Linked DNA regions of Homo sapiens: all the other regions are reported to be linked to region 3. The links are microRNA targets in miRTarBase. Many come from high-throughput screens and were not tested one by one. Region 3 holds a microRNA gene; each other region holds the end of a gene's coding sequence.
Evidence for each region. Region 3 holds the annotated microRNA hsa-miR-6781-5p (CGGGCCGGAGGUCAAGGGCGU, at 6,618-6,638, shown strand). A microRNA usually pairs through its seed, bases 2 to 8, with sites in the 3' UTR of a target mRNA and lowers its output. Matches are read on the target gene's strand: a 7mer-m8 pairs with bases 2 to 8, a 7mer-A1 pairs with bases 2 to 7 and ends in A, and an 8mer does both.

Region 1: miRTarBase lists ZNF703 as a target of hsa-miR-6781-5p. Seed matches in the 3' UTR shown: 7mer-A1 at 4,336-4,342 and 7mer-m8 at 3,589-3,595.
Region 2: the mRNA of AP2S1 is a reported target of hsa-miR-6781-5p. Seed matches in the 3' UTR shown: 7mer-m8 at 6,523-6,529 and 7mer-m8 at 6,517-6,523.
Region 4: miRTarBase lists BTBD9 as a target of hsa-miR-6781-5p. Seed matches in the 3' UTR shown: 7mer-m8 at 2,554-2,560.

The regions. Positions count from the first base shown.
Region 1 is chr8:37,695,330-37,703,209 of GRCh38, reverse strand. ZNF703 (zinc finger protein 703) reads right to left here and starts at 7,428. Exons shown (of 2, transcript NM_025069.3): 1 at 6,988-7,428; 2 at 3,191-6,065. The coding sequence starts at 7,230. The coding sequence ends at 4,536. LOC124901933 (a long non-coding RNA gene) reads left to right here and starts at 7,529. Exons shown (of 2, transcript XR_007060888.1): 1 at 7,529-7,770. RefSeq lists enhancers at 3,552-4,063, 6,497-7,039, 7,040-7,583 and silencers at 7,318-7,417, 7,468-7,817.
Region 2 is chr19:46,831,900-46,839,180 of GRCh38, forward strand. AP2S1 (adaptor related protein complex 2 subunit sigma 1) reads right to left here. Exons shown (of 5, transcript NM_004069.6): 4 at 6,841-6,900; 5 at 6,268-6,649. The coding sequence ends at 6,548. Among named protein-coding and RNA genes, the nearest start is that of SNAR-E, 4.8 kb to the left of the region's middle. RefSeq lists an enhancer at 6,310-6,810.
Region 3 is chr17:42,822,953-42,830,555 of GRCh38, reverse strand. It overlaps MIR6781 (microRNA 6781), which reads left to right and starts at 6,613; the gene lies at 6,613-6,676. It overlaps BECN1 (beclin 1), which reads left to right and starts at 6,274. Exons shown (of 12, transcript NM_001313998.2): 1 at 6,274-6,401; 2 at 6,677-6,808. The coding sequence starts at 6,679. RefSeq lists enhancers at 5,345-5,911, 5,916-6,045, 5,912-6,480, 6,481-7,047.
Region 4 is chr6:38,172,501-38,175,500 of GRCh38, reverse strand. BTBD9 (BTB domain containing 9) reads left to right here. Exons shown (of 11, transcript NM_001099272.2): 11 at 319-3,000. The coding sequence ends at 516. It overlaps LOC124901315 (a long non-coding RNA gene), which reads right to left and starts at 323. Exons shown (of 2, transcript XR_007059571.1): 1 at 1-323.

The sequences.
Region 1 (7,880 bases), not on the chromosome of region 3:
ATTATGTGAATACAAAGGCTTCATGTTGGGTTTTATGAGCTTTGGCAGATTTAACTGGGGTTGGGGAGGCAGGAGGCTCTCTGGCAGGGAGGTAAGAAGATGGGTTGATGTGATTTGGCTTTGTTTCCTTTAGGTGACTTTGGCTTTCAGGAGAAAGTTTGAAACCCGGCACATTCCTCTTTGTAAATGATGTAACACATTAATGCACAGCACATTATGAAAATGGTAATTCAAACCCATAGTGCTCCAAATTAAACCATACATTATCGGATGCACTCAACCATCTATTTTGCAAAAAGACAGGATGAATGAAATCAAATCAAACAGAAAACTGGAGTGCAGCTTCCCCTACAGAATGATTAATAAAGTGTAGAGCCACAGGATTATTGTAAGATGAATTCCACCGTAACCCAGACATACATCAGGAGGGAGTTAGTTCATATACCCAGAGATACAATCACAGTATGCTAGGTAGGGCAGAGCAATTATGGCTGCAGAAAGATGGGGAAGGGCCCCACACCTCCCGCTTGGGCTATGAATTTCTTAGGAGATGGGTTTGCGGGTGTACAGTTGGGAAGTTAAAAACTTAACACCACATGATTTTGTTTGAGTCCAGCCTATATCCAAGGGTGAGTCTTTCCCCTCTTTCTCCTCCTCCCTTCCTCCCATGGCTGCCACAAGGCCACAAAAATAACCAGGCAAGAGGTGTGAAAATAGGACCTGGAGCCAGGAACGTCCAGTGTCTCAAGTTCCAGCCCTGTGGCTTCCACCCTTCCTGGTGCTTTGGGAACACCGGCCCCATTTCTGGCGCCTGGGACAGATTAGGAGAAAGAGGCGGAGGAGGGCTGGGAAGAGGAGGTGGAGAAATGGAAGGTGGAGGTGACCCTCAAAGAAAGGGTTGCTGGAGGCATTAATTATTCAAATAAGCACTGGATAGGGGAGCACCACCTCCATTAAGATGGCAACTTTGTTTAATGGGAATTAAGCTATTGAAAGTAACAAACTTTTCATCAGCTTATTAAAACTGTCACATTTCTTAGGTGGGGAGAGCCATCTTTTCAGAGTAGAACTGGACACTCCAGACTATGTGACCTGCCCTTTGCGGCCACAATGGTAGTTGGGGGCAGCCTATTCCCACCAGGCCCAACAGTGAACTTCCCAGTCACCAAAGGCCACCAATACATTTTATGGGGGAAACTCTGTAGTCTAAGGAGTTCTCTAACTGCATTCTTACACCTAAGGTATAAGCCAAACACCTTTTAGAACAGTTTCTTTTGGTATAGGGAATTTGCTGGTTGTGCGTCCCTTCCTTCCTTCCTCCCAACAAGAGGAGCCCTTTGGTTTGTAGATAGGGAGGTCTGAAGACTTGAAGTGTAAGAAAGCAAAGTTTAAGTCGCCCTACAGAGGGAGCAATTTCCATCATTTTTAGCAGGCATTAAAAAACATAGTGAGGGGGTGGGTCTCTGAAGGAAAGAGGGGCCTTCAGAGGAAGGGAAGATGGCAAAGAAATAATAAACAACGAACAAAACAACAGAAAAAGAAACAATAAAGCCACGAGTCGCTACATTTAGTTCGTTTAAAGATTCGGGCCAGATTGAACCCCGAGAAATTGGATAATGCTGGTTTCCCAGGAAGACCCTGATCTGGTCTCAGGGCACTTTCTCTAATTCGGGTTTCCCAGTGCCCAGTGGTAGGAGCACCCCAGGATCCCTTTCCTTTTGCTAGATCCAAAGATTTGGTAAAACACACACACACACACACACACACACACACACACACACACACACACAAACACACACACACACACACACACACACACACACACACACGCCCTGTCTGTCGTCGAGTTTGTGGACAACCAAAAACAGCGCAGAGAAACCGGCCCCATCCTACGCACTGCACTTGACCTCGGGCCACAGACGTTTCAAAAGCATGCACCTTTCAGAGCACGAACTCCCAAGTCGCATTCCTTACAGAAAAAGCAAACAGCACAACCCCAACGACAGATCCCACGAGGAGCGCGGCCAGGAAGCGGCGCAGGAGGCGGTTTTGCAGAGCGTCCCATTGGCCCCGCGCGCCCAGGCCCTTGCGCAGGGAGCAAGCGCCCCCGGCCCGATGGAGCGGGGTCCTGGCGTCGGGCAGCCGAAGTCTGAGCCGCCGTGCCTTGGCGGGCGCAGCCCGCTCTCGCTGCTGGGGGTAGGGCAGCGAGTCTGCATTGGGCTGGACGTGGCTGGGCCTCCCAGAGCTGTCCCTTCTCTCCTCCCGCCTTGGACACTCGCGCAGGGCCTGTCTATGGTACAGGGGGCAGGCTCCCTGGCCAACACGTCAGTAAACAGCACCCGCCCTCTCTTGCCCGAGGATGCAGAGGCCAGTGTCAGTCGTGCGAGCTCAAGAAAATGGACGAGCCAGGCCCAGGGGCCCGGCTCCTCCGGACTGAGAATGGCTTCAAGGTCTTGAGTCATCGTCGCATCTTCTCAGCAAAACCCAAACCCTGTTTCGAAGTTTCCGGGGCGCAGATGACCCAGGTCGACAACCCAGCGATGGCTGAGGGGAGCCCCCAAGCCTTGAGAAGCAACCCTCTCAGCAGGTGCCTTTACCCTCTGGTCAGGAGAGAGGAAACGCCCCACAAAAACAGCAGGTAGGAATCCTTCGCGTTCAGAAGATGAGAAGAACCAAGGTGCCGTCGGGGCTAGTGCGGGCTGCGCCTTCTCTCCGAGGCCTGTCGCTCGTCTTCCTGCCACCAGGTGGCGCCAAAGGCGTTTCGTCTCTGCCCGCCAGGCCGCCGGGCTCCAGGACTGCGCTGCTGGAGTCTCTGCCGGAGCCCTTGGTGCTGGGGTCCTGGGGTCCCTTCTTAGCCCCCTTAGCACGTCGCATCTGGGCCCAGAGGAAAATCCACTTTTACACACACCCTCCACCCTGGCCCCAGGAAATGTCAAGGCCTTTGAAGTGAGGCTGGGAGCTACATAACCAACTGGGGAAAAAAATTAAAAGGTGGTTTTATGTTATTTGTAATGCGTTGGCAGAAGTTTTGTTTTTTCTCCCCCATTTCTTGAGGAAAGGCATTAAACTCGTCCTTGAACGGAAATCACAGAAGGAAACCATAAGGCATTTTAAACAAGAATAAAAGAAGGGCATCTGCTTAGGTGTCTGGAAGAGGGTGGGCGAGGCAAGAGAGAAAAACACCACGGTGTGAATATAGCCAAGTATTCCATTTATTAACAAAATAAGTCTTACCAAGGGAGAGCTCTGTTCGTCCCAAACAGGCCCCGCAGCCCCCGCGCTGCCGCATCAGACCAGAAGGAGGGAGGAGTGGGGAGAAGACCCCAGTCGCTGGGGGGTCCACTCTGGGGGCTCTGCCGGGCCAGGCCTAGGAGAGGGCGGGGGCTGCTGTGATCCGAGAGCTCCCTGACGCCCCAACCTTCCCCGAACGCAGCTAACGAGCTCGTGACATCCGCTGACATCGCCACCGGTCTGCTTTGGAGGGATCTAGCGAGAGTCACCTACCCCACCCCTACTGCCAGGGGAGGGGTCGTTGCCCCCACGAGGGAGAGAAAAACAAGGACTATAATGCACTTCGCAAAATGTAAGGGGCCGGCTTCACGCCAGCGGGGCCTTCTGGGACTTTGAATTCAACCAGGTGAGCGCTCCAGGTGCCCCGACAGGCGCACTGTAGCCACTGGGTGTTAGGGGCGGGAGTCTGGAAGGTGACGGTAGACGGCCACTTGGGCCCTTCTGGGGGCGAGCCTACTGGTGGGGTCAGGGCTCTCCGTGCTCAGAGCAAGGTAGAGGAGCAAGGCCCTACTTTTGGGGGGCAGGGTCCAGACCAAGGACCCTATGCGCGGAGGGTGGCGGGGGAGGAGTCCCGGAGCAGTGTACCAGGTCAATAGAGCTCCAGGGCCCCTGCCACCCAGGTGGCCCCCTCCACCCCCAAAATGAGTTACAAAAAAAACCTCCTCTCTGTTACTTGTACAACAAAGGAAAAAACAAAACAAAACAAAACAAAAAACAAAAACAGAACCGCAAATGGAAGGAAACAAGAGGGAATGAAGGGGGAAGAGGGAAAAAGAGAAGGCGGAAACGTAGTTTTAAGTTAAGACTCATGCAAGAAACTCCCCAGGAAGGGAAAACAAAACGTCTAGAAGAACCCAAAGACCCCAACTCTCCCTCAAACCAAACCAATCAAAACCAAAAAAAGAGGAAAAGGAATAAAAAATGTAAAACTTATATCTAAGAAAAAATAACAGAAAGGAACAGGGGCGGGGATCATGTCGTTATTTGTGGGATTAATATTATTATTTGGGAGAACACAGACTTTTTGCATACCATTGACTCATGTGGGCCGTTAATGCACTTATATTCCCAGCTTGTAAGCTAACATTATAGTAAATAAATACACAGTCCGGTGGGGAAGGGCTGGGTGGGGAATCCCGGCAGGGTCAAGCAGTAGTGGAGGTTGCAGCGGCGACGGCAGGTGGGGAGGGAGGAGGAGGGAGAGGGAGGAGGGTGAGGGGGCTGGGGTGGAGGAAGAGCTGTAGTTACTGGTATCCCAGCGCCGAGGCTGAAGCTAGTCTCTGTCCATACAGCGCGTATGGCGAATAGTAGGGTCCGGCTGTGGGGAGGGACGGCACGGCCAGGCCCCCCGCTGTGGATAAGTGGCTCTTGCCATAGGGGTGGTACCGGCTTAGGCCCAAAGTGTGTGGATTCCGCAAGGACAGCGACCCGGGGCTGCCGGGGGCGGCGGGCGGGGGGAGGTGCAGATGGCAGGAGGCGGCGGCGGCGGCGGCGGCGGCGGCGCTGCCCAGGCCCGAGGCCCCGGGGTAGGCGGCCAGAAGTTTCTCGGCTCCCGGCAGGGCCGTGTGGGTCCGTAGGTGGCTGAGCAGCTCCTCCGAGGTGGCGAAGCGCTTGTCGCACGGCCCACTGGCTGCCACCCAGTTGCAGCTGTGCGGCAGCGGTTCGTTCTGCAGCATGAAGCCGTAGGTGTAGAGCGGGTGGCCGGGGAGCGCGGCCTGGGCGGCGCTGGACGAGAGCGCGGCGGGCTGCAGCGGGTGCCCGGGGTACACCAGCGGGTAGCCCCCCGCCTTCAGGCTGGGCCCGGCAGGGTCGTGCGCGCTGCAGGTGGAGCAGCTGGAGCCGCCGAGGTGCGAGGCGCCGTGGTAACCTCCCAAGCAATAGGGGTCGCGGCATAATCCCTGCAGGAAGGAGGGCGGGGAGGCCCCGGTGAGCGGGCTGGAGCTGGGGGGCTTGCCCGGCGGCAGGCCCAGGCCCCCAGACAGCTGGCCTCCCACGAGGCCGGACTTGCTAGGATCCAGGCCAGGCACGAACTGAGACGGGTAGCCGGCGTAGGCGCCCACGATGGAGCCGTGGTAGCCAATGCTGGAGGGCGGCAGCGGGAACACCGAGTGGCCCGGCTTGTAGGGAGACACCGGCGCCACGTGGCCGGCCCCCACCAGCGCCGAGGGCGGCTCGGACTTGCGCCCGGAGGCCCCGGACTCGGCGCCACCGTGCGCCCCGGGCTCCCCACCGCCGCCGCGGCTCACGGCTGCCGGCTCCGGGCTGGGCTTGGGCTCCTGGTCTTTCTTGTCCAGCTCCCCGCCGCCAACCCCGCCGCCGTTCTTGCAGTCAGAGTGGTGCGGGGAGCCGCCGCGGGAGCCGCCGGGCGACGACGAGGACGAGGATGCGGAGACCGGCGCTCCATGCGGGGGAAAGGGCGGGCAGGCGGCGCTGGGGACCCTGAAGCCCGCCTTGTCTCCCGGGGACGAGGAGGACGAGGAGGAGGTGGAAGACACCGAGGAGGAGCCGCTGTCTTTGCGGGAGTCGCCGCCGCCGGAGCCCTTGGAGTAGGGCTTGAAGCTGGACTTGTCCTCGGCCGGTGAGTCCCCCAGCTGCTTCAGGGCCGCGGCTGCGGAGGCGGCGCCCGGGGCTGAGCGGCCGGGGTCCTTCTCCGCTCCCAGCCCGTTGGCCGCCGCCGCCACCGAGTTGAGTTTGGAGGAGGGCGGCGGGTCCGGCTTGCCGATCTGCGAGCAGGTCTGAGCCAGCAGCGCCAAGGGGCTCTTCTTGGCGTCCAGCTGTGGGAGACAGAAGCAGGGGGAGGGAGAAGGAGTGAGACTCAGAGGCCTGCGGGGCGAGCGGGGGCGCCCGGGGAGCTGGGCGGCGGCGCCACGGGGCGGGGCGGGCCTGGGGAGAGGGTCTGCGAGCGAGGGCCGGGCCGGGCGCGGCAGCTGGCGGAACTGCGCCCACACTGCCGCTGGGTCCCGGGGTGCGCCGCAGGCCCTGCGGAAGGAGTTCACCCAGGACCCCTGCGGGAGAAGGTGACGTCTCTGGAGTCGGGGCTGTGACTCGCCACTTCCCTCTAATGTCCCCCTCCTCCAGGCCCAGGAAAAAACTTATTCCTTTAGTTTGGGGGAACTTCGCTTGGGACGGGTTTCTGGCGATGGCGCCGCGGGGTAGGAGAGGGGAGCGCGGATTCTAAAGGAGGGGCTGCAGTTGGCGCTCTCTCCGTAGCCCCTCCCTCCCGGGGAGGGCACCCAGGGAAGAGGCAGGAAGAAAGATCCGGGATCGGGAGCGCCAGGGCGCCGTGCGCCCTCACCGGATGGGACAGAGGCGAAGTGGGACCCGGGCAGCCAGGGCTTCAAAGAAAACAGCCCGGCGTGGGGGGCGGGGAAGACCCAGCAGAGACCAACTCCTGGCTGGAAACTGGGGATCAGAGGAAAAGTAAAGGACCCAGAGGGGACTCCAGGAGCAAATCCAATCCGAGAGAAAACACGGAGCTCCGAAGGGCGAGCGTGGAAGGAGACCCTTCCACGGGGAAGCCTGGGGAAGCCCTGGTGGGCTCTGATCCCTCGGTTTTCTTCCCCTCCTCACTCAGCCCGCCAGCGTGACCAGACTTGGGTGTCGCACCGAGCCCCGGGGCGCTGGGAGCTGGGTCAGGGTCCCGGTCGCGGTGGGAGGAATGGGGCCGGCGCCCGGGGGCAGCGGCCGGGGACTGACCTCAATGGGGCTGACGGGAGTGGAGGACAGCGGCTGCAGGTACTCCGGGTGCAGGAGGTGACCGGTGTGAGCGCTCAGCATCTTCAGGACCCTGATCGGGAGCCGGTTCGCCTGGCGCAGGGGGTCCGCCGGTGGCAAGAGGGACACCGCTGCCGGCACCGCCGGCCTCTTCCCGCCGCCGCCGCTGCCGCTGCCGCTGCTTTCGGGTGTCCTTGGGTTAGATCCAGCGGGCGAATCGCTCATTTGGAGGAGGCAGCGCCGCTGGGGGGGCGGGGAGGGCGGGGGAGCACCGGGGAGGCGAGCTCCCGGGGCGGGTGGGCTCGCTCCGCAGCGTCGATCGCGGTGCAGCGGGAGCTGCGCCTCCTCGCCGCCTCCCCTCCTCCACCGACGCCTCCGCCGCCGCCGCCACCGCCGCTGGCCCCGGCTAGCAACACAAAAACCTTCGCCTTCCTCGAGCCGCACGTCAAATAGCCGCGATCGGCAGCCACACTTCAAAGGGATCGCCGCGCCCGCCCAATCGCAGCTCTCGCCGGGACCCCGGGGCGGGGAGAGCGGCGGGCTGAGGCCGGCTCCATCGGTGGGCGGGGAGAGCCTTAAAGGGGCCGCGCCGCGCGCCGCCGCTGCCTCGGTCTCGGCCGCTCCCGGGATTCCTCCCCTCCCCCCGACTGGGCCTTCCTCGCCCTGGGGTCCCCCGCCTGGGACGGGACTTCTCCGGGACCCTGAGCTCTGCGCCCCGTCCTCCTTTCCGGCCGCTCTCTCTCCTCTCTCCCTTCTCACCACTGGGTGGGTGGGGGGTGATGCTGGCGGGGGCTGTAACCCCGCCCGCCGTGTGTGTCCGAGGTGGGGTGGGGTGGGGTGGGGTGGGGTGGGAGGGATCGCACGGCGCGGGCTCT
Region 2 (7,281 bases), not on the chromosome of region 3:
TGTAAGCCACTGTGCCTGGCCTTATTTCTTTATTTTGAGATAGGGTTTGTTCTGTTGACCAGGCTGGAGTGCAGTAGCTAGATCTTGGCTCTCTGCAGCCTCAATACCTTGGGCTCAAGCAATCCTCCCATCTCAGCCTCCCAAGTAGCTGGGATCGCAGGTGTGATACCTACCATGTCCAGGATATTTTTCTTTTTTTTTTTTTTGGTGGAGATGGGGGTCTCACTATGTTGCTCAGGCTGGACACGAACTCCTGGCCTCAAGCAATCCTCCTGCCCTGGCCTCCCGAAGTGCTGGGATTATAGGTACGAGCCACTGCGCCTGGCCGGGTTCATTCCTTTTCAATGTTGAGGAGTGCTCCATTGCCTGGAGGGGCCAGAGTTTGTTTTTCTATTCATTTTTGAAGAATATTTAGGTTGTTTCCAGTTTTTGGTGAATAAAACCACTATAAACATTCGTGTGGCCAGGCATGGTGGCTCACGCCTGTAATCCCAGCACTTTGGGAGGCCGAGGTGGGCGGATCATGAGGTCAGGAGATCAAGACCATCCTGGCTAACACGGTGAAACTTGTCTCTACTAAACAAAATACGAAAATTAGCCGGGCGTGGTGGCAGGCACCTATAGTCCCAGCTACTTGGGAGGCTGAGGCAGGAGAATGGCATGAACCTGGGAGGCGGAGCTTGTAGTGAGCCGAGATCGCATCACTGCACTCCAGCCTGGGAGACAGAGCAAGACTCTCTCTCTCAAAAAAAAAAATTCTTGTGCATTTTCGTTGTTTTTCTGTTTACAACTACAAGGTAAATGTCATTCATTCAGGTGTTTTGTAACATCTTTGTTGACATATATTTACATACCATTCAATTCACTTATTTAAAATGTATACTTCGGCCAAGCGCGGTGGCTCACGCCTGTAATCCCAGCACTTTGGGAGCAGGAGGGGGGTGGATCACGAGGTCAGGAGATTGAGACCATCCTGGCCAACATGGGGAAACCCTGTCTCTACTAAAAATACAAAAATTAGCTGGGCGTGGTGGCGTGCGCCTGTAGTCCCAGCTACTTGGGAGGCTGAGGCAGGAGAATCCCTTGAACCCGGGAGGTGGAGGTTGCAGTGAGCCGAGACTGTGTCACTGCACTCCAGCCTAGCGACAGAGGGAGACTCCACTAAAAAAAAAAAAGTATACGGCCGGCCGCAGTGACTCACACCTGTAATCCCAGCACTTTGGGAGGCCAAGGCGAGTGGATCACGTGAGGTCAGGAGTTCGAGACCAGCCTGGCCAACATGGTGAAACCCTGTCTCTACTAAAAAAAACACACAAAAAAATTAGCCAGGCATGGTGGCATGTGCCTGAAGTCCCAGCTACTTGGGAGGCTGAGGCAGGAGAATCGCTTGAACCCGGGAGGTGGATGTTGCAGTGAGCTGAGATCATTGCGATCATGCCATTGCATTTTAGCCTGGGCAACAGAGCGAAATTCCCTCACAAAAAAAAAGAAAAGAAAAGAAGTTAAGAAAGACAGAAAAGAAAAGGAAAAGAGAAGAGAAGAGAAGAGAAGAGAAAAGAAAAGAAAAGAAAAAGTAAAGAAAGAAAAGAAACCCAAGCCAGGTTCAGTGGCTTGCGCCTGTAATCCCCGCCCCTCAGAAGGCCAGGGCATACCAAAGTTATTGAAATAAGAAATCAAGAAAGAGAGAAAAAAAAAAGAAAGAAAAACAAGTAAAAAGGAGGCTGAAGCAGGAGGATTGCTCAAGGCCAGGAGTTTGAGACCAGCCTGAGCAACATAGCGAGACCCTGTCTCGAAGAAAAATAATTTTAAAATTGGCCAGGTTTAAAACAGGCACAGTGGTTCACGCCTGTAATCTCAGCACTTTGGGAGGCCGAGGCGGGCAGATCACGAGGTCAGGAGATCGAGACCATCCTGGCTAACGTGGTGAAACCCCGTCTCTACTAAAAAATACAAAAGATTAGCCAGGCGTGGTGGGCACCTGTAGTCCCAGCTACTCGGGAGGCTGAGGCAGAAGAATGGCGTGAACCCGGGAGGCAGAGCTTGCAGTGAGCCGAGATTGTGCCACTGCACTCCAGCCTGGGCGACAGAGCAAGATTCTGTCTCAAAAAAAAAAAAAATTAAAATTAAAGTTTTTAAAAAAATTGGCCAGGTGTGGTGATGCACACCTGTAGTACAAGATACTCGGGAGGCTGAGGGAGGAGGATCACTGGAGCCCAAGAAGTCGAGGCTGCAATGAGCTATGATCACACCACTGTCTGGCAGACAGAGTGAGACCCTGTCTTCTAAAAACAAAACAAAACAAGAAAGAACCCCAGTACCCTTTAGCTATCATCTCCCTCCCATTTCCCCTGGGTTCTGACAACCCGTCATCATTTTCTGTCTCTCTGCACTTGCCTTTTCTGCATGTTTCCTATAATGGATCATTCAATATCCGGCCTTTTGTGTCTGGCTTCTTTCACTTAGCTTAATGTTTTCCAGCTTCATCCATGTCAAGTGTTACAGTAGCTAGTTAGGCACATTTTTTTTTTCTTTTTTTTTGACGAAGTTTCACTCTTGTTACCCAGGCTGGAGTGCAATGGCGTGATCTCAGCTCACTGCAACCTCCACCCTCCAGGTTCCAGCAATTCTGCTGCCTCAGCCTCCCAAGTAGCTGGGATTACAGGCATGCGCCACCACGCCCGGATACTTTTGTATTTTTAGTAGAGACGGGGTTTCACCACGTTGGCCAAACTCCTGACCTCAGGTGATCCGCCTGCCTCGGCCTCCAAAAGTGCTGGGATTACAGGCACGAGCCACTGCACCCAAGCTCTGCTCCCAATTCTTGACCTCTTACATCAGATTTGGCACAAAACTGTCCCATGCCCCACATATTAAATGATCCTATTTATATGAACTGCCCAGGCAAATCCAATAAGACACAAAGTGGAGTAGTGGTTGCCAGGTGCTAGGGGAATTGAGGGGTGATGGCTGAAGGATAAGGTTTCTTTTTGGGGTGATAAAAATATTCTAAAATGGGTTGTGATGATAGTTACCCAACTCTGTGAATATAACAAAAACCACTGAATTGTAATACCATAAATGGGTGAATTGTATGTATCCCAAAAAAGCTGTTACCACCATCCCCCAGGTTCTCCAAAATGAAACATCCTTCCCATAGCGGGCATCAGACACAGAATAAACCCGAGCAGGCCCTGTGTGATCGGACTTCCCCTCCCATCCCCAGTCCCACTCTGAACCATCTCGAACCCCCTTCTGCTTACTCTGTTCCAGCCACACTGGCCTTCTTGCAAGTTCTGCCTCAGGGCCTTTGCACTTGCTGTTCCATCGGCTAGAATCCTCTCTCTGGTTAACTCGGCTAGCAGAGTGTGATTTTGACCTTAACAAAACCAATCTCCCCTCCCCTCCCCTCCCCTCTCCTTTCCTTTCCTTTCTTCTTTTGAGACAGGTTTCACCATGTTGGACAGACTGGTCTTGAACACCTGGGCTCAAGTGATCCGTCCACCTCGTTCTCCCAAAGTGTTGGGATTACAGGTGTGAACCATCATGCTCGGCCCAAATTCTTTTCTTTTCTTTTTTTTTTTTTTTTTGGGACAAAAAGAGTCTCACTCTGTCGCCCAGACTGGAGTACAGTGGCACTATCTCGGCTCACTGCAACCCAGCCTCCTGGGTTCAAGTGATTCTCATGCCTCAGCCTCCTGAGTAGCTGGGATTATCGGTGCCCAACACCACACTTGGCTAATTTTTGTACTTTTAGTAGAGATGGGGTTTTGTCACGTTGGCTAGGCTGGTCTTGAACTCCTGATCTCAAGTGATCTGCCACCTTGGCCTCCTAAAATGCTGGGATTATAGATGTGAGCCACTGCGCCCAGCCCCCAGTTCTTACATAGACACCATATAAGTGGCAGGCAGAATAATAGCACGCCCTAAATGTCCACATCCTCATCTCCGGAACCTGTAGATGTGTTGTCTTACACAGTAAAAGGGACTTTACAGTTGTGATTACAGTCCGGGTCTTGATATGGGGAGATGATCCTAGATTATCCAGGTGGGACGAATGTAACCACAGGTGTCCTTATCAGTAAAAGCAAGCGGCAGGAAAATCAGTCAGAGCCAGAGAGAGAGAGACTGGAAGATGCTCCGCAGCTGGCTTGAAGGATGAAGGATAGGGTTACATGCCAAGAACAGGAGGCAACTTCTAGAGGCTGGAAAAGGCAGGGAAGGATTCTCTCCTAGATGGTCCAGACAGCTCTGCTGACAACTTGATTTTAGCCCACTGAAACCCATTTCAGATTTCATTGAGAATAAAATTGTGTTGTTTTAAGCCGCTAAGTTTGTGATAATTTGTTACAGCAGCAATAAAAAACTAACATGCTAGTTTATATTTATAAAAAGAGGCTGAGCACCATGGTTCAGGCTTGCAATCCCAGCAATTTGGAGGCTGAGGCGGGCGGACCATTTGAGCTCAGGAGTTCGAGACCAGCCTGGCCAACATGGTGAAACCCCGTCTCTACTAAAAATACAAAAATTAGCCGGGCATGGTGGCAGGCGCCTGTAGTCCCAGTTACTCGGGAGGCTGAGGCAGGAGAATCACTTGAGCCTGGGAGGTAGAGGTGGCAGTGAGCCAAGATTGTGCCATTGCACTCCAGCCTGGGGAGTGACAGAATAAGACCCTGTCAAAAAGAAAGGAAGGAAGGAAGGAAAGAAACTGACAGGGGCCAGGGTGTTCTCAGCTTGCGAAGGATGCCAGGCATAGGTGTGGCCAGCAGCCCCCACACTCTGCTCTCAGTGGGCATCGGGGGCCCCTTAACTTCAGAGGGCCCTAGAAACACTCAGGGGTGGCTTCTATCATCACAATGGCCAGAAGGCCACTTCTGGCACTTGGTGGGTGGAAGTCAAAAGTCCATCCACTTCTGGAGCAGCCTCACAATGAGGGATTGTCCTGGCCCAAATGCCAGCAGTGCTGTTGCCAAGAAACACAAATCATCAAGCCCAGTGCCTACATTTCCAACAACCACCGGGGCGAGCAGATAAAAATGAGGGTTCTGGAGCTACCCACCTGGCTTCAAAACTGGCTCAAAACAAACCTGGCTTGGCTACTGACTAGCTACAGACCTTGGTCAAGTCGTCTTTTTTTTTTAGATGGAGTCTCGCTCTGTTGCCCAGGCTGGAATGCAGTGGCACAATCTCGGCTCACTGCAACCTCTGCCTCCCGGGTTCAAGCAATTCTCCTGCCTCAGCCTCCTGAGTAGCTGGGATTACAGGTGCATGCCACCATGCCCAGCTAATTTTTATATTTTTAGTAGAGACAGGGTTTCACCATGTTGGCCAGGATGGTCTCAATCTCTTGACCCGCCTCAGCCTCCCAAAGTGCTGGGATTACAGGCGTGAGCCGCTGCGCCCAGCCTGGTCAAGTCTTTTAATGTTCCTGAAACATTCCTGGAACAATGTTCTCACTTGGAAAATGGGGATAATAACAGTCCTGTCCTTGGCCGGATAGAGTGGCTCACGCCTGTAATCCCAGAACTCTGGGAGGCCAAGGCAGGAAGATCACTTGAGCCAGGAGATCACTCCAGCCTGGGCAACAGAGCAAGACTCCATCTCAAAAAAAAAAAACTTAGCTGGGCATGGTGGCACGCACCTGTAATCTCAGCTACTTTGGAGGCTGAGGCAGGAGAATCACTTGAAACTGGGAGGCAGAGGTTGCAGTGAGCCGAGCTAGCGCTATTGCACTCCAGCCTGGGCAAAAAGAGCGAAACTCCATCTCAAAAAAAAAAAAAAAAATTAACCAGGTATGGTGGCACACATCTGTAGTCCCAGCTACTTGGGAGGCTGAGGTGGGAGGATCAACTGAGCCCAGGAGGTCAAGGCGGCAGTGAGCCATGATCCTGCCACTGCACTCCAGCCTGGGCAATAGAGTGAGACCATGTCTCAAAAAAAAAAAAAATAGTCCCAGACTTATAATCTAGTGAGCTTTAAGTAAGGTAAGACATGTCAATTGCTTAGAACAATGCCTGGGAGAGGGTGAGTGCCCTTCAGCATTAGCTGAGTATTGTTATTTTAGTAGCAAGTGCCTGGAATCTAAACCCATCACCCCTTCCAGCCTGGGGGCCCTTGGTGAGCAGGAGCAGGTCTGAAGAGCACCTGGGTGTCTCACCTTGCTCAGCACAATGAGGGGCGTTTGTTGACTGACTGACTGATGGACTGAAGGCAAGGCATCCTAGGTATCTGGTTCCCAGGGGAGACAGGCAAGGGCTCAAAGACGGCAAGGCCAGGCAGGACCACAGGTTTATTGGGGACTCCACGCACAGACGCTTATGGCATCACACGACAACGGCACGGTTACTCGGGACACACACGGTGGCCTCTGCCCACAGCCAGGGCCCAGAGGCAGTGGGGTGCAGTCTCCTCCCTTGTGGCCCAGACCCAGCTGGGTCCCTTCCTCCTAGGCAGCTGAGGGAAGGACTGCTGGGTTGGCCACGGGCCTGGGAAGGGGAAGCGAGCAGGCGAGTCCAGGAGGGGCCGGGGCCGGGGTGGGGCTCGCCTGCCCTCACTCCAGGGACTGTAGCATCAGCAGCTGTTTCAGCACCTTCGTCTGGCTGGTCTCTCGGATTTCGCCAGCCAGGAACATCTCGTCCACGACCGTGTAAACCTGTGTGAGGGGAGACCCTGGGGTGAGACGAGGCCCCCCAGGATGCTGGCCCGGACCCTGGAAGCTGGGGCTCTGATGCCCCTCGAGCTGGGACACAGACCTCAGCAGAGGCTCCGGGTGGCTAGTGCACCACGGGTCCCCCCCGTCCCCCTCCTCTGGCTCCTTCAGCCTCCTCTTCACCAGGAGCCTACCTTGTAGAAGTTGAACACCAGGTCCAGTTCACAGACATTGTGGAAATATTCGTTTAAGACCTGGGAGAGGAAGGCAGAGATGGTAAGAGATGGGCAGGGAGAGAGCCACACACGCACAGAGATGGGAACAAGGTCATCAGAAAGAGACAGCAAAAAAAGAGACCAAGGGGGAGGCAGGGGAGAGAGAGAGACAGTGACAGGGAGAGAGGCAAGGAGACACACAGAGAGAAACAAAAGCAAAGATCGATGCAAAGAGATGGCAAAAGGTCAGGCGCGGTGGCTCACACCTGTAATCCCAGCACTTTGGGAGGCTAAGGCAGAAGGATGACTTGAAGTTAGGAGTGCAAGACCAGCCTGGCCAACATGGTGAAACCCCATCTCTACTAAAAATACAAAAATTAGCTGGGCATCGTGGCGTGTGCCTGTAATCCCAGCTACTCA
Region 3 (7,603 bases):
TCTCAACCCCACTTTCTCACTGATATAATTTTTGTTAGGTTACCAATGACTACCATGTTGACACCAGTGGTCACCTCTCATCTTATTTGAATCTCTCAGTAGTACTCAATATATTAGCCACTCCCCTTCTTAAAATACACACAGCAACCTGTTCTGATCTTTCTCCAGCCTCAACAGTGATTCCCCATTTCCTTTGCTGGCTCTTCCTCCTCTGCTCCACTTCTTAATGGTGGCATGCTTCAGGAGACTTAGGTCCTTTATTCTCTGCTTACACTTTCTCCCTAAGAGGATCTATGCATGTTCGGCCAGGCGCGGTGGCTCACGCCTGTAATCCCAGCACTTTGGGAGGCCGAGGCGGGTGGATCACGAGGTCAGGAGATAGAGACCATCCTGGCTAACACGGTGAAACCCCGTCTCTACCAAAAATACAAAAAATTAGCCGGGCGTGGTGGCGGGCGCCTGTAGTCCCAGCTACTCAGGAGGCTGAGGCAGGAGAATGGCGTGAACCTGGGAGGCAGAGCTTGCAGTGAGCTGAGATCGCGCCACTGCACTCCAGCCTGGGCGACAGAGCGAGACTCCGTCTCAAAAAAAAAAAAAAAAAAAAGAGGATCTATGCATGTTCATAGCTTTAAGTATCATCTGTATTCGGCCAGACACGCACGGGGGCTAATGCCTGTAATCCCAGCACTTTGAGAGGCCAAGGCAGGCAGATCACCTGAGGTTGGGAGTTCGAGACTAGCCTGAACATGGAGAAACCCCGTCTCTACTAAAAATACAAAATTAGCTGGGCGTGGTGGTACATGCCTGTAATCCCAGCTACTCGGGAGGCTGAGGCAGGAGAATCACTTGAACTGGGGAGGTGGAGGTTGCGGTGAGCCGAGATCGCGCCATTGCACTCCAGCCTGGGCAACAAGAGCGAAACTCCATCTCAAAAAAAAAAAAAAAAAAAAAAATCTGTATGCTGATTTGAGGGCCCCAGATTCGTATCTCCCATCTGACATCTTCACTGAGTTCTAACCATCTATTTGATGTTTCTACTTGGAAACCTAATGAGCATATCAAACTTAACATGGCCAAACCAGAATTCTTGATTCTCCCACACACCTGTTATTTTCCTATTCTTCTCCATCTCAGTAATTGACATAACTGTCCACCTAGTTGTTCAAACCAAAAACCTAACAGTCAACCTTGATTCCTCTCTTTTCCTCGTCTCTCCACATTCAACCCATCAGCAGGTCCTGTCAGCTTTCCCTGTATAATGCATCCTGTATGAGTGTGCTTTCCTCCATCTCTTGTTACCCTGGCCAAAGCCACTGTCATCCTTTGCTAGGACTATTACAATAGGCTCCTATCTGGTCTCTCCATTTCCACTCTTGCCACCCCCCACCAACTGTCACATTCTGTTCTTCACTCAGCACCAAAATTTATCATTGATTGATTGACTGACTGAGACAGGGTCTTGCTATGTTGTCCAAGTTGGTCTCGAACTCCTGGCTCAAGTGATCCTCCCGCCTCAGCCTCCTGAGGAGCTGGGATTACAGGTGCACACCAGGCCAGCTCAAAATAATCTGCTAATATGTCAGCCACAGAGATGGTAGCATCTACTCAAGCTGAATATACCTAAAGAGAGAGAGAGAAAGAGAAAGAGAGAGAGAGAGATCCCAGAAACCTCAACTCTAGGGACCCACCCAAGAGAAATGCATAAATATATTCACCAAAAGACATGAACAAGAATGTTCATAGCAACACTATTCACAATAGACCAAACTGGAAACTACCCAGATGCCTCTTAACAGCAAGAGAGATATCTATATTTTAATATAGTCACACAATGGAATACTACAAAGTATTGAGAATGTATGAACTAAAACTACACAAGGTGGGTGAATCTCATGATGAGCGAAAGGAAACAAGAGTATGTCATGTATGATTCCATTTACATGAAATTCAAAAAACAGTCAAAACTCAATCTAGGGTGTTAGAATTGACAATATTGTTTGCCCTTAGGGTGGGCATCAATTAGAGGGTGGCATGGGAGAGGGAGTTGGGTACTGGTTACATTGACGTGTTCATTTTGTAAAAATTCATTGAAAATACATGTATGATTTGTGTCTTTTCCCCTATGTATTCTATCCCCCCGTAAATAGTTTCTTTTTAAGTCAGCCAGTCAAGTCTCTTCCCTACTTACCACCCTCAGTGGTTTCCAGATAACATAGGCCTTCCTGAATCCCCCAGTTGAAGCAGCTCCTCCCACCCTGCCCCCACTTACTCTCTATCACATCACCTTCTTACCTACTGTATTAGCTTTCTAGGGCTGCTGTAGCAAAGTACCACAAAGTGGATGGCTTAGAACCAAAGAAATATATTGTCTCAGAGTTCTGGATGCCAGAAATCCAAAATTAAGGTGTCAGCAGGACCATGTTCCTTCTAAGGGAGCCAGAGAAGTATCTGTTCCAGACCTCTTTCCTGGCTTTTGGTAGCCTCAGGTCTTCCTTGGCTTACAGATCACCCTGTGTCTCTTTACATCATCTTCCCTCAGACACGGTACATGTCTGTCTCTGTGTCCAGATTGCCCCTATTTATAAGGACGCAGTCATATTGGTCTAGGGCTAACATCAATGACCTCATCTGCAACGATCCTATTTCCAAAAAAGGTCACATTCCCATGTGTTAGTCCCAGATGTTAGGACTTCAACATCTTTTGGGGGACATCATTCAACCCATAATATCTGCCATTATCTGAAATTATCTTATTAACTTGGTTACATGTTTACTGTCAAATTCTCTCCTCTGGAATATAAACTATTAGAGCAGTTCACCAGTATATCCTCTCAGACCTAGAATAGGGACTGGCACATAGTAGATGCTCAATAAACATCTGTTGAATCGATGACTGAGGATATGTTGTGTATTATTCACAATCCCTCAAGCACTACATACACTGATTACATATACTTCCCAAGTGTGAGGATACACAGAGCATTCACTATGTAACAGTCATTCCCCTCCATTCCAAATGTATCAGCTCATTTATCACACTACCCTTTATGATATTTACTACTGTATACTATTAATCTCATTTTGTAAATAAGAAAACAAAGCACAGAACAGTTGAATAAATTGCATAAGGTCACATGGTTAGTGGATGGTAAAGAACCAGGTGGTCTCAACTTCCAAATCCTCAGTTGTAACACTATACCCCCTACCTCTCTAGAAGCCCGTTACTTCTCTATGCGTTTCTGAGATGTTAGGGACAGCCAAGCAGGAAGAAACGCAGGACTATGAAGCAGCCACACCAGGACTAGGTGAGAATTCTTTGGGGATGATTCCAGTCACCTCCCCTAAAGGGGCTTTCATGCTGAAAGAGCCAAGAGGAAGAAGGATTGTAAACACTATCCCTAGTCACAAAACCGGGAGAAAAATCAATCTAGTTCCACATATCACATCCAATACCAACTATAAGAAACCACATACATTTAAAAGAAAAGAAAGACACTTCTGGAGGTGGGAATAACTTTCTAAGCAGTATAAGTCATCAAGAAAAATAAGCAGATTTGACTTGAAAATTTAAAACTTCCTGAACATCTGGAAAATAATTAAAGCATTCATGAAAAATTACTAAAAATACTGAGAAAAATACTAATAATCCAATACCTAAATAATCAAAGAATGCAAACATAATTCAGAAAAAAGTAACTACTGCTTGAGCCCGGGAGGCGGAGATTCCAGTGAGCTGATATTGCACCACTGCACTCCAGCCTGGGTGACAGAGTGAGACCGTGTCTCTTTTTTTTTTTTTTTTTAAAAAAAGGCCGGGCATGGTGGCTCACACCTGTAATCCCAGCACTTTGGGAGGCCAAGGCGGGCAGATCAGGAGGTCAGGAGATTGAGACCATCCTGGCTAACATGGTGAAACCGTCTCCACTAAAAATATAAAAAATTAGCCGGGTGTAGTGGTGGGCGCCTGTAGTCCCAGCTACTCGGGAGGCTGAGACAGGAGAATGGCGTGAACCCAGGAGGCAGAGGTTGCAGTGAGCCGAGATGGCACCACTGCACTCCAGCCTGGGCAACAGAGCAAGACTCCATCTCAAAAAAAAAAAAAAAAGTAACTACAATAAGCAAATACATAGCAAAAAGTTCAGCCTTACCAGCAATCAATGATGCTAATTAAAATAACAAGGAAGTGCCATTTTTTGCTTTTGTTCCCCAAATATATGATACCCAATACTGGCCAAGGCAATATGAAAACAGGCTTCCTCATACATTACTGGAAGCAGAATATAGTTATGTGCAAGCACTTTGGAAAATGATTCCCAGTGTTAAGGAAGAGACATTAAATAGCTGACACACTCTTAATTCTGTAGTCCCAGTTATGAGTCTCTATCATAAGTAGCCAGCTCTTCATTGCAGGATTATTGTAATCACCCACAGGGGAAATAGTAGAATTTCCAGCGGTAAAAAAATACACTAAGGCAGTACATTTAGTGTAGTGTAATGTAGCCATGATAACTACAATAACTGTGTAGCAACATAGAAAAATGTTAAATTTAAAAAGCAGAAGCCTGGGCAACAAAGTGAGACCCCATCTCTTTTTTTTTTTGAGATGGCGTCTCGCTCTGTCACCGAGGCTGGAGTGCAGTGTGAGACCACATCTCTACAAAAAATTTTAAAAATTAGCTGGGCATGGTAGTGATCACCTGTGGTCCCTGCTACACTGGAGGTTGAAGCAAGAGGATTGCTTGAGCCAGGAAGTCAAATCTGCAGTGAGCCATGTTTGTTTGTTCCGCTTCACTCCAGCCTGGGTAACAGAGTAAGACACTGTCTCAAAATAAAAATAAAATAGACAATACTACATACAATTTTGGGTTAAGCAGTGGTTTCTTTTACACCAAAAGCATAAACATTGGACTTTATTGAAATGAAAAACTTTTGGCCAGGCACATTGGCTCACACCTGTAATCTCAGCACTTTGGGAGGCCACAGTGGGGGATTGCAAGGGGAGATGGGAAATGTTCTAAAACTGGATTATGGTGATAGTTGGGCAACTGTGTAAATTTACTAAAAATTATTGAACTGTACATTTAAAAAGTGTGAGTCTTATGGTATGTAAATTATACCCCATAAAGTTGTTTTTAAAAATGAAGTAAGTCCCTCTGCTCAAGACCCAGTCATCTCATCTCATTCAAAGTGAAAGCCAGAGCTTTACAATCCCTATAAGAGCCTAGGTGGTAGCTCAACACTCTTACCTCCCTCACCCCATTTTCTGTATCTCTTTTCGTTGCCCATCTTCTAGCCACACCAGCCTCTGCTAATCCCCAAACAGGTACCCTCTGTGCTCTTGCTGTTCCCTTGGCCTAGAATGCTCTTCCTTAAGATGCAGGTAAGAATTCCTTCCTCACCTTCTTCAAGCTTTTATTTGAATATCACTTTCTTTTTTTGTTGGTTTTGTGTGTGTGTGTGGGGGGGGGGGGTTTGAGATGGAGTTTCCTTCTGTCGCCCAGGCTGGAGTGCAGTGGCATGATCTCGACTCACTGCAACCTCCGCCTCCGGGGGTCAAGCGATTTTCCTACCCCAGCCTCCTGAGTAGCTGGGATTACAGGCGCACGCCACCATGCCCAGCTAATTGTATTTTTTAGTAGAGACGGGATTTAACCATTTTGGCCAGGCTGGTCTCGAACTCCTGACCTTGTGATCCGCCCGCCTCGGCCTCCCAAAGTGCTGGAATTACAAGCGTGAGCCACCATGCCCGGCCTTTTGTTGTTGCTGTTGTTGTTCTGAGATGGAGCCTTGCCCTGTCGCCCAGGCTGGAGTGCAGTGGCCCGATCTCGGCTCACTGCAACCTCCACCTCCCAGGTTCAAGCGATTCTCCTGCCTCAGCCTCCCGAGTAGCTGGGATTAAGCTGGGATTATAGGCGTGCCCCACCACGCCCGGCTAGTTTTTGTATTTTTAGTAGAGACGGGGTTTCACTGTGTTGGCCAGGCTGGTCTCGAACTCCTGACCTCACGTGATCCGCCCTCCTCGGCCTCCCCAAGTGCTGAGATTACAGGCGTGAGCCACCGCGCCCGCCGCCCCCTGAATTTAGAGAATAGCGGAGCCTCCCCATTCTCTGCGGCCTTGGCTCCTACACTTCCCGTGGTAACCTTGTTCATCCGCTGAAGCCCGCTGCTTTTCCCAGCCCGGCCTCTGGGGGCCGCTGCCGGGCCTGTGAGCCTGTGGACCAGGAGCTCCTGCTGCCGTCGTAGCGTCACGTCCGGTCTCGGGCGGAAGTTTTCCGGCGGCTACCGGGAAGTCGCTGAAGACAGAGCGATGGTAGTTCTGGAGGCCTCGCTCCGGGGCCGACCCGAGGCCACAGTGCCTCCGCGGTAGACCGGACTTGGGTGACGGGCTCCGGGCTCCCGAGGTGAAGAGCATCGGGGGCTGAGGTGGGACCTTAGAAGGGAGTCTGGGAACCCTCACGGCTCTTATTGGAGTCCCTTCCCTGACCCTGGGCTCTAAACTGCCTTTGCTCAGGCTGTCCCGGAAGCAGGTCCTCCCCGTATCATACCATTCCTAGAGGGAACGGCGCAGGTTGGGACTTCCCTCCCTTTACCATCGTCACCAAGGCATGTGGTAACCCCGGGCCGGAGGTCAAGGGCGTCGCTTCTCCCTAATGTTGCCTCTTTTCCACGGCCTCAGGGATGGAAGGGTCTAAGACGTCCAACAACAGCACCATGCAGGTGAGCTTCGTGTGCCAGCGCTGCAGCCAGCCCCTGAAACTGGACACGAGTTTCAAGATCCTGGACCGTGTCACCATCCAGGAACTCACAGGTCAGCGAGACCCTTGGAAAGAGGGTGGTCAAGAATGTGGAAGGTGGGCAGCTTTGGTGATATAATTCTTATGGTGGCTGTGTAGTCTGCCACAAACTCATCGTGTGAACCTAGGAAAGTCACTTCATCTGGCTCCCTGTTTTCTCCTTGGAAACATAAAGCATTCTGACATTGTGGACTTCTGAGAGCTTTCCGACCGGGCGCGGTGGCTCACGCCTGTAATCCCAGCATTTTGGGAGACCGAGGCGGGCAGATCACCTGAGGTCAGGAGTTCGAGACCAGCCTGGCCAACATGGCGAAACCCCTCTCTACTAAAAATACAAAAATTAGCCGGGCGTGATGGCACGTGCCTGTAGTCCCAGCTACTCGGGAGGTTGAGGCAGGAGAATCGCTTGAACCGGTGAGGTGGAGTTTGCAGTGAGCTGAGATCGCACCACTGCACTCCAGCCTGGGCAACAGAGCGAGGCTCCGTCTCAAAAAAAGAGAGCTTTCAGTAGCAAAAGAAAGATCCTTATTTTCTGCTCCTGCTGTTTCAGAGAAAAGGAATATGTATATATAATAATAAATGGTATTTTTTGAGGACTTACTATATAGTAATACCAAGTGCATTACACGTATTACTTCATTTAGTCCCTGTAACAACCCGTACGGGGTATACCGTCATTACATCATTTTTCAGATGAAGAACCGAGGCACAGAGAGGTTAAGTGACTTACCTAAGGTCCAACAGCTGGTAAATGGAGTAGAGTCTTAAAGTCTGAAGAATTTGCTGGATGTGATGGCTCACGCCTGTAA
Region 4 (3,000 bases), not on the chromosome of region 3:
AAAAAAGAGCCCATTAGACAAAGGTTGGCAAAAACGGAGTAATCCAGTGTGAAGATTTTGTGGGAATCCGTGTCATGGTGTCTCTAACTTTTGGGCCACTGGCTCATTTCCTTTCCTCTTGACTGATCAAAATGTGTTTACAGCATGCTAGTTGCCATCAGGTGTCTGCGCCGGGGCAGGCGTGGGCAGTGGGAAGGACCTCCTCTAACTCCCTCGTGGTGGCCCCCAAAGCTGGGCAGGGCAGTATCCCAACTTGCGGCAACTCCAGGGCCGCATGCTGACCCTTCACTCATGGGGTCTTTTCCTTTTCTCTCCCAGGTGTTCCACTGTGTCCACTTTGAGTGTCCAGAGCAGCAGAGCAGCCAGAAGGAGGAAAATAGTGAGGAATCGGGGACAGGGGACACCAGCCTGGCCGGTCAGCAGCTCGACTCCCATGCGCTGCGGGCGCCTAGTGGCAGCTCACTACCCTCCAGCCCAGGCTCCAACTCACGCTCCCCCAACCGGCAGCACCAATAAAGGAGGCAGCGGGCCTGGTGTGACTTGGTGGGCTCGGGCAACGGCAGGAAACGGTCTCCTCCCTGAGCAGGGGTCTCTGTTGACTGCCCCCACCTCTGCCCCTTTCCAGGGAGGAGCCGACCTAGCTGCAAAAGCAGACACCGAACAGGTTTTCTCCCAAGGACAGAAAGGGGCTGCTTTGTTCTTCTCAATTTATCCAAATCAGGCAGGTCTCAAGGGGGAGAAAATGGGTCTTCAATCTTCATCAAGTCCACCATTAACACCCTACCTCTCTAATCTAGCCCAGGCGCAGGGAACAGGAGGAAGTCATAGACAGGCCTGTGTTGGAATACAAAAATGGCACGCAAACACTCAGGCGGAGGAGAAAGCCATTGGGCCTTTGCTACCTGGAGGCACCCTTTAGGAATGGGCCTCCATAGAGTGTTCATTCTGCTGGAATACATTGCCCTGGCAACTAAATGATTTTTTATTTGTTTTAGTTATTCTCCACTCAGTGAATCATAGGTGTTCCGGATCTATTTGAAATGCTCAAACAGCAAATCACTAGTTTTAATCCCTTTTGATGCTATAATTTTCCTTCCTTGGTTTTGAACGGTTCAGCTTGCGGGGACAGAGACCCATCGTGCATGTCTCCTAAATGAGACACGGATGCAGCTCATCCTGGCACTTGGGCCACAGAGGAAGTGCCACAAATGCACACAAGCAAATCAACCTGTGGACACTGGAGTTAATAGTCACTCGTGTGGCTGAGTTACTCACCTGTCATTCCTGACATGGATCCAGCCTTTAAGCTTGGGAGGCTGACAAGGAAATAGTTACTATGCCCGCTGCTAATTCACTGTTCCGAAGTCCATGTAGATAAACATATACCGAGTTCTGGCGTGGCCAAACCTGCCGGGGACTGCCGTGGCTTAGCTGCCCCTCCAGTTGTGTTTATCGAAGCATTGGAGAGGCAGCCACCTGCCCATCAGCGTCAGGAACGCAGAACTGGGACTCCGTGCTTCCCCCACACCACAGTACTCAACTGGGGACTGAAAAATAGCAGTTCCAAGAAGCTTTTCTCCTAATCCTCATCAAAAGGACCTCATTTGACGATGGTGGCTTGATGTGGCTCCGTCTCCTACTTAGTGATTTCCATTCCAGTGCTGCCTGCCCTGGGTAACTGCGCACAACATTGCCTGCCCCTCCGCTGTCCCCAGAGCTCCGGCCTCTGTCGCCATCAGCATCAGCCTGGGAGTCTCCCCAGGACGGCATGGCACGTGAGCAGCACTGCAGTCCTTGGGTCTTCGGCGCCAACCTGCAACCCTGATCAAAGGAGGGTGAGGGCGTGGGAGTTTCCTTTCAGGTGTGTCAAAGACATATCAGCTGCGCTCTAGAAAGAGCCAACGGGTCAGCCGCTTCCTCCTAGTTTAACTTGATTTTGAGTGATTTGTCCATATGGAAATAGTAGGGTAGCATCAAACTGCGTGATTAAATTGGAAGACTGTCTTTCCGTGTGAACACAGGATGGCAGACATCAGAGGGCTACCGGGGCAGGGTGGACACGTTCCTGAGGAGAAGCCAGGGTCTGCAGCTCTCCATCCTCCCCGGTAGCTCCAGCTGCAGGGCTGAGCTGCTTCCTATCCCCTCAGCTCTGATCTCTGCCACTTCCCTGTTGTGTGGGAGAGTGGAACACTCCTGGGATGCCAGGCATTTCATAATGGGAGGAGGCTCCTGTAAGGAACGGTGGGCGCCCGCTCACAGTGGGGGGCCCTCCAGCATGGTTGCTGACTCTGTCAGCCCCCAGCCCCGGGTTGCCAATTAGCCAGAGAGCTCCTGCACACACAGCACTTCCTTCCCCAGTGTGTTTTCTACCCAGATGGGGACAAAGGAGCCAGACAGTCATATCAAGGGCAGAGTTCAAACATTTTGAAATGAGCCATTCACATGCTTCTTTTTAAACATGGGCATCACCTGCCCAGAGGCCCTTGGCCTGAAGCAGCATGCTGCTGACCTTGGGAAGAGAGGGTGGGCTGGTGGGGGTGCTGGAGGAGCTGCCCGGCCCTGCATCTGCAACCCTCCAGTCCCCTGCCCACAGAGCACGCAGAGCCCTCCTGTGCTCCGGGAACGAGATAGCAGCTTGGCAGCTCGGCCTCGCATCTGAAAAGGAATACGCTGCAAAGCCTCGGCCCTAGACCCACATCTGCAGCTCCCTGGCCTGTGGCGGTTCTTTCCTTCGGGGCATGCCCTTCCAGATCTCTGTCCCTCCTGTCTTCTAGCACTTTAAAGATGCCCCTTATCATCAGATAAAGAGAAGTATGGGGACGATGGGGTGGCACTAACAGTAGATGTCATTGGTGAGGACTGATGGCAAAGTCTCATTCCCTCACAGCCGCGCTGCCAGCTCGCCTCCCCCTCGCTTTGCTGGGAGCCTGCCCTGGACTCCAAAAGGACACGGGTTCACCTCCTTTCCCAGGCTGGAGGGGTACTGCCCTTCCCTGAGGG